Homo sapiens: one gene and its partner. The protein of the gene in region 2 purifies or fractionates together with the protein of the main gene of each other region. This does not show direct contact. Each region holds a gene or a part of one and is shown on either strand. Other genes may lie near its edges.

What was found.
Region 1: the proteins of CST7 (region 2) and COL6A1 purify together in Homo sapiens (affinity purification with mass spectrometry; one large-scale study listed by BioGRID and IntAct). This does not show direct contact.

What each region holds. Positions count from the first base shown.
Region 1 is NC_000021.9:46,002,159-46,005,824, reverse strand, and holds the end of COL6A1 (collagen alpha-1(VI) chain precursor), read right to left. Parts: intron 3,608-3,666; coding exon 3,424-3,607; intron 3,299-3,423; coding exon 3,115-3,298; intron 2,706-3,114; coding exon 2,676-2,705; intron 2,435-2,675; coding exon 1,812-2,434; 3' UTR 777-1,811; downstream 1-776. UniProt on the Homo sapiens protein: Collagen VI acts as a cell-binding protein.
Region 2 is NC_000020.11:24,951,930-24,955,981, forward strand, and holds part of CST7 (cystatin-F precursor), read left to right. Parts: intron 1-4,052. UniProt on the Homo sapiens protein: Inhibits papain and cathepsin L but with affinities lower than other cystatins. May play a role in immune regulation through inhibition of a unique target in the hematopoietic system.

The sequences.
Region 1 (3,666 bases), on a different chromosome or scaffold from region 2:
GGTCCCCAGCATTTTCCCGCAGCTCTGGTGGCCACATGGTGTGACGCATCGAGCGAGGCGTGTCCCTGCCTGTGGCACCTGAGGGGCTCGCCGGGGTCCCCGCAGGTGAAGGCCTTCAGGAAGCCCCACCCTCACCCTCGCCGCCCATCCCTGCTGCCCTCCTCCAGCCCAGCCCTCGGCCGATCCTCTTAGTCCCCTAGCGGCCCCCAGAACAGCCGTGCACCCCGGATTCTGGGATTCAGGGGCCACTAACTTCTTTCTTTTGAGGATGAGCCCTCGCTGCCTCTGCCCTCCGCCCTCTTCTTGCTCTGCCCCAAAGGTGGAGCCTCCCAAGACTTCTTCCTCTGCCCCAAAGGTGGAGCCTCCCAAGACTTCTTCCTATGGGCCCTGCAGTATCTCAACTCCCCTTCCGAGCTCCCAGGGGTATTTCAGTACCAAGCCTAGAACCTGTGGCCGGCCTCTGTGGTTGACCTCGGTGGATGTGGCCGGCCCCAGCCCACTGAGGCCTGATCTGCTCCCGACCCCAAAGCCCAGGGTGTTGCCTTCTCAGCTCCTCTCTGTCCACAGGTGCAGCATGGTCTCCATGTCACCGACGCAGACGCAGATAAGGGGCATGGATGGACAGCTGTAGCCAAGGGCAGCCCTGGTTCTGGCCTGGGACTGGTGGTGATGGGGGTTGGGAGTGAGCACGCACGCACACGCCCCCCAACCTCCTGTGACTGCTCCTTTGGGGCACACGGCAGGATTTTACTTTGTGGGGAAGATAACCACAGGGAGAGGAGTGAAAACCTTTATTTGGAAAAGTCAGCAACATGGATATGGTTCAGAAAAAAACACAGAAGGAGCAAAACTAACATGAACATAGAAAGGGGGCCTTTGATAAAACGTCGAACACATCACTATTCTGAGGAAGGAGAGGTTTGCGTTGTTTCTAGTAAGACACAGCCCTCTGTGGCACCAAGGGGCTCTCATGTCCAGTCCAGGCCCCAGTCTCTGCGGGAGGGAGGAGCAGACGGGGTTAGCACCGTTAATCTCGAGGGTCTTGAGTGCAGCCAGCGCCCCTGCGAGTACTCTCTGAGGTCGGGGTCAGTGCTGGTCAGCAGCGGCCTCCAGGGCTGTAGGGCCAAGGTCCAGGCCGGTCACCAGCAGGACCCTCAGGAGACGGGGCCGAGTCGCCGAGATTTATGTCTGCAACGGCCTCCTGACCTTGGTTTCCCAAAACGAGACAGAGGCCAATGGCTGCCCCAAGCTGAGGAGAAGAGCTTGCTTTGAGTTTAATTGTAAAGTAACTGTTAGGTGAGGATTGGTGGGAAAAACCAGCTATGGGGACAGAGGAGAGGGAGGCTAGTGCGGCACAGGCCCCGAGAGGGCGTCTTGCTCAGGCTGGTGGGATGCAGCACAGAGGTGCCTAGGGAAGGAGCTGCGCAGGCAGGAGGGAGGGCGGGCAGGAGGGCAGGGCAGGAGAGCCCGGGGTGGGGAACCCAGGTGAGGCCAGCTCAGGGCTGAGCCCCAGAGGGCCCTGCACAGGTGACGCCAGCTCAGGGCTGAGCCTCAGAGGGCCCTGTGCAGGTGACACTAGCTCAGGGCTGAGCCCCAGAGGGCCCTGCGCAGGTGATGCCAACTCAGGGCTGAGCCCCGGAGGACCCTGCACAAAGCAGGCAGCAGCGTTGTGTCCTGGCTTTCCAAGCTTTTCCTTAAAAAAAATCTAGCGAATCAGGTTGGTCGGGAAAATTCGCATCACATTTTACTCTGTTTAGTGATGAGTGGGGAGGGGTGGGAGGACAGGGTTTGGTGCCGGCGTGCAGGGTGGGCTAGCCCAGCGCCACCTTCCTGGAGACTGTCTGGTGGAAGACACCGCGGAGCAGGGCCTGGTAGCTGGGGACACGGAACAGGTGGCTCTCGCCGTAGGCCACGTCGTACTCGGCCGTCTTGCCGGTGACCAGGACGCGGATGTGGGGCTCATTCACCTGGCGGCCCACGACCACCACGAAGATCTCGATGCCTGCCCGCTGGGCTTCCTGCACGGCCTTCTCGATGGCAGCGGGCGTGGCGCCCTGCGAGTTGCCATCTGAGAAGAGCAGCAGCCTCTTCTTGGCAGCGCCGGACGAGGCCTCGCGGTAGAAGCGGGTCACATAGCCCAGGGCATCGTTGACGTCGGTGGCGTCGTTGATAAAGTCCATGGCATCGACGGCACTGGCCAGGGCCGTGTAGTTCTGCAGGAACTGCAGCGACGCCCGCTCTGGGCGCTGCTGGCCCGTGCCGCTGTACTGCACCACCGCCACCCGCACGTCGTGGGCGGGGTCCGTCCTGCCCGCTGTGAGGAAGCGCTCGGCCAGGCGCTTGGCGAAGCGCTTGGTGGTGTCAAAGTTGTGGCTGCCCACGCTGGCGGAGCCGTCCAGCAGGATGGTGATGTCAGCCGGGGAGGAGAACGTGACTGCGGGGCGGGGTGGGCAGCCGTTAGCATGAGGCCCTGGTGATGCAGCCGCAGTGGGCCGGCCAGAGAGCGTCTAAGCTCCCCAGAGAGGGCACGGCACGGTGGTGCTCAGCCACCGGAGTGAGCCATGCACCTACTCTCGTGACCGCCAGGCCCTCCTCCCAGAGCCCCGTCCTCTCAGAGCCCTCGCCCCAACCACGGTGCCCTCCTCCCCACGTGTCCCGGCCGCCGAGGTACTCACTGGGGCAGGTGTAATCTGGACACTTCTTGTCTGTAAAAGAGAAAAGCCGTGCAGTGTGAGCCCACTGCTCCACCTATAACCCCGCAAGGAGATGTCACAGGACCTCCCGGCCGAGCACAGGGGTGGCCGTGCCCCCGGAAGTCACAGCGAGCCGGGAGGAGGATGCCTGTGGGACAGCCCCAGGCGGCCCCGTGCGCACCTACAGGGTGGCCGTGCCCCTGGAGGTAACAGTGAGCTGGGAGGAGGCCTCTGGGACAGCCCTGGGCGCCTGCGCGCACCTACACAGATCTGGGACGGCCCTGGGCGGCCCCGCGTGCACCTACGCAGATCTGGGACTGCCCGGGCGGCCCCGCGTGCACCTACGCAGATCTGGGACTGCCCGGGCGGCCCCGCGCGCACCTACGCAGATCTGGGACTGCCCGGGTGGCCCCATGCGCACCTATGCAGATCTGGGCGGTGACATTCTTCAGGAAGGCATCCTCCAGCAGCTCTGCATAGTTCTCCTTGACCAGCGAGAGGCCGGGCCGGCCCTGGGATGGTGCCAGGCCTTGGCAAGAAATGACATTGAGCTGGTCTGAGCCTGGGATGAAGTCAAACACGTCTTTGATGCCCACGGAGACCACCTGTGGGGACAGACAGTATCGGTGTGGCGCAGCCTGCTCTGCCCTCGTCTTTCTGGGGACAAGGCCACCCTGGCTGGCGGGGCGCCCTAGGCGGGGCAGGTGCAGCCTGGGGGTGGCCACCCCACCTGGATGCCGGGGCTGCAGAGCACGTTGAGCGGTGTGGTGTCCCTCTGAGTGTCTGAGCGCCCGTCAGTGATGACCAGGGCGATGCGGTTGTTCGGGCTGGGCGGCAGCAGCTGGTCCCGCGTGTACTGCAGGGCCTCCCCCGTGAAGGTGCCGCCCGCCATCCACTGCAGGCTCTTGATGGCTCTGCATAGCAAAGGGCAGGAAGGGCCGGTTGGGGCCAGGCCTGCCGCGGGGCCGAGCCC
Region 2 (4,052 bases):
CAGGGGCCCTGGGGTCAGGGAGCCATTTCAGCTTCCCTCTGCAAGGTGATGTCAGTCCTTACTTCCCAGTAGCAGAGAGACCACTTGCAGCCCGGGGACCTCCTGCCTCCTGGGGAGCACTGGGAGCTGCCGCAGGCTGAGCCACCGTCTACGTGGCAAGATTTGTTTTTCCCAATGGGGGCATTCATTTGCCCTGAGACCCCTGCTGTGGCCATGTGCATTTTGATATATTGATAATGATTACAGTTTTGCACATCATTTATTGACAAGTGCTTCGTGTATGTTGCCTCATATATTCTCACTGTCGTCAGCATCCTCATTTTACAGGTGAGGACACGGAGGCTCAGAGAGGTTAGGCAGCTTGCCTGAGATCATACAGCCAGTGAGAAGCAGAGCTGGAATTCAAACTCCGGGTGTGTCCCAGTGGGTTAAGGTCGGGACTGATCTGGTAGAGCTCAGTGTCCTGTCTGTGCCAGGGGCATGTGTGTGCCCTCAAAAGATAGACTCCGCCATTAGCCATCAGGCAGAGACCCAAGAGCACAGCGGGCAGGTGTGGCCCCAAGGACCCAGGCTCTCTGAATTTTGATGGTGTCATGTGAGAGGGCTTGGGGTGAAGCGTCTCCAGGTGGGCAGAGTGAACACCAGCACCTCTAAGCTGGACTTGCACCCCCCCAACACCCCAGTGCTCAGGCACAGCCATGCAGACCTTATGCTCTGGGTGATGGGGGCCGATGGGGCCCCTCTCAAAGGGTCTCCCCACCCAGCTCAGTACTGGCCCATGGAAAGGGCACCCCCTGAGGTGACACAGGGAGGGACACCAGCAGGGACCATCTGCGTCCAGCTCTCGGCACCCAGGTCCCCATCTCAGGGATGGTTTCACAAGCAGGGGCTTCCCAACCTCCCGGCCACACCTAGAACACTCCTGAAAGAGGGAGGAGGTGGGCAATGCCAGCCCCCGCTGTGCCCACCCATTTTCCTACTAAAGGCAGGTGGGAAGGGTCTGCCTGGTGCCACCACAGCGATCCCTGCCCATGTTTTCTCTCCTCAGGTTGGCTTAGTGCCAGCTCTGCCACTGGGCCTATGCTCTGAGGACAGGAACGTACCCTGCCCAGGGCATGCCCAGCAGCTGTCAGAAACTGCAGCTCCCTGCTGCCTTGGGCAGAGGCCCTGGCAACTCCCCTGGCCTGGCAGCTTCACATCTGCACCCCATTGCACACTGGTCCTCGGGCACCCGGACAGGACTTTGCCCCATGCACACAGCCAGTAGATGCTCAGAAACACGGGGCTGCAGCAGAAAAGCAGGGTGATCGCAGGATCACCAGACAAGGAGATGGAGGAAACTCAAATCCATCTCCCCGAGGAGGCTGGGGCCCGGGTTTTTAAGGGTTCTGGAGCTCGATAGCTGGAAGGGGCAGCGTGATGTCACAGCACAGGGAGAGGAAGAAGCTGTATTTTCGTGATGATCCTGTTCCTCCGTGGGGGGTTTCCAAACTGGTTGCTGGAATTGGGATCTGAAAAACATCTTGGGCCAGCAGCAGCCTGATTCAAGCTTAATTATGAGTATCTTTCTGTCCAGAACCTGGCATGCAATTCTTGTCAACCTTAGGGGACAGTTTCATTTGCCTTCCTGTGACCATGTGTCCTGGGGCCTGCTCAGCACCTGGTATCATCAGGCCCTGCCCGCCCCTGCCTCACCTCCAGCTTCTACGTCTGGAAGCTCCCTACCTGTCTCAGGCATGGCCCACCTCCCCTCCCACCCCGCATTAGAAGCAGTGGTGGGCTGGGGTCAGGCTGCCCCGGCAGGCTCCTGGTGCGAGCCTCGCACATGGCAGGTCCCCCATTCCCCTCGAGCAGGCCTGGCCTGCCCCAGGCATTGTTTCTATACAGACGGATTTTATGTGCCTTTTGTTTCTTCTCACAAGCCTGACGGTCCGTGGGTTCTTTCCGTTGACGTCATCGCGGCCATCACCACCATCACCCTCTGCACCCAGCAGCAGCCTCCAGCGGGGTCTCCCCAACTCTTCCCAGCACGTAGCTCCCTCCTCCCCTAGGCCAGTTCAGCCACCTTGCAGCTGCTCCCCCATCCCCTGCCCCTCTGCTCACCCATTTTACCCTCAGGTTGGTGTCCTCTCCTGTGCCCCAGGCCTGCTCTGCCTCCCCACCACTGTGGGCGGGGCCTGTCTTAGAGTCCACCCTGCATCTCCCCTAGCACCTGCCAAACAGTCCGTCTTGAATGAGGAAAAAGTGAGAGTGGTGTTTCGAATTAGTCACACCTGGGTTTAGCCCCCCACCCTGCACTCCAAGCTCTTGGTCTCCTCGCCTGCAGAATGGGCACACATGAGAAGAAACAGCATCGCAGGGCCCTCCAGACAGAGCAGGCAGAGGAGGAGAGCACCCATTCTCCCGCTCCCTGCCTTCAGTTGCACGGAGCAAACCCAGAGCCCCCTCCCTGGGGGGTCCTCTTCACAGTTCCTTGACTCCATCGGAGGCTCTCAAAGAGCTGCATTCGCTCACCACCTGCTGGACTGCTTGTTTTCTTCCCTGAAGATGAGTGGCCTCTTTGGGGTGTTAATTCTTAATGATCAACATTTCCTTGTTAATTTCTCTAAACAAATCATCCTAAAAATAGGTTTGACTTTTAAACAATTTTAAATTAAAAACTGAGCTTTTAATATCTGTTTAGACAACTGTAAGACAGTGAAAGGTTTATTGACTTGAAGCCTACATTTTAGGAAACATGTAGTTAAATAAAAAATACCAATTTCAGTATTTTTCATAACCTTTTTGTAACTTTACCACAATCTTTTAGGAACTAACGTCATGAGCTTGGAAGGGAAATTTATTTGAAGTTCAGCGTAAACTGAGTTTCACTTCATTTTTAAAATTCTGTTAATCTCAAGCAAAAGTAAATACATTTTATTTTTTAAAAAAGTTAATAGTGGTTAGCTTTAAGATATTAAAAATAATTATTTTTTGTTATGCTCCTCTGTATTTTTCAAATTTCTACCAAAAATAGGTAAGTTTATAGTCAGAAAAAGCCATAAAATGTAGTTTTTACAAAGAAAACAATGGACAGCCATATTAATGTAATGTGAGGAAAGAAAGCAAAACAACAACAACAACAACAAAAAAAAACGCTAATCTGACAGCAAAAATACACTGAACACATGCTACCCCTTCCATACACGTGTCTCTTTCTCTGCTGTTCAGATGACAGTGATGAGCTGAAACCAAGCTGGTTTCCAGAACAGTTTTTTGTTTTAACTAAAAGCCACATTCAACTTCCTGTCATCAACAAGCACAAGGACCAGAAGGAGCTGCCTTTGGCTCTGGGGACCCCTCCTTCCTGATGGTAACACTGCAGGTCCCAAGGGACCCCTCACTGCCAACACCAGTGTCAGAGTCACCTGAGAGCCTGGGGAAATGCAGGTTCCAGGACCTCCCCTAGATGGCCAAGCTCAGCCCCTGGTGCTCAGGAACAGAGCGGTTTCTATTCCATCTTCAGAGGCCTAAAGTCTTTTTTTTTTTTTTTTTTTCTGAGACGGAGTCTCGCTCTGTTGCCCAGGCTGGAGTGCAGTGGCGCGATCTCGGCTCACTGCAAGCTCCGCCTCCCGGGTTCACGCCATTCTCCTGCCTCATCCTCCCGAGTACCTGGGACTACAGGTGCCCGCCACCATGTCCAGCTAATTTTTTGTATTTTTAGTAGAGACCAGGTTTCACCGTGTTTGCCAGGATGGCCTCGATCTCCTGACCTCGTGATCTGCCCGCCTCGGCCTCCCAAAGTGCTGGGATTACAGACGTGAGCCACCTAAAGTCTTCTTAAGCAAAGGCTGCAGCAGTTTCAGGGGGGATGTGTGTGACACTAATTAGTGTGAAGGACAGTCCCAGGGCATGCCAGCGCAGGACACAGCTATCCACCAGCACACAGGACCAGCACGTGGCCAGCATTCTCTATGGGGTGGGGCACCAGCACTGCGCTGCTTTTTTGGGATGGAAGGCCAGGCTCCCTGGGCTGCTAAAGCACAAGGCAGGCACAGTCATCCAAAGCCCAG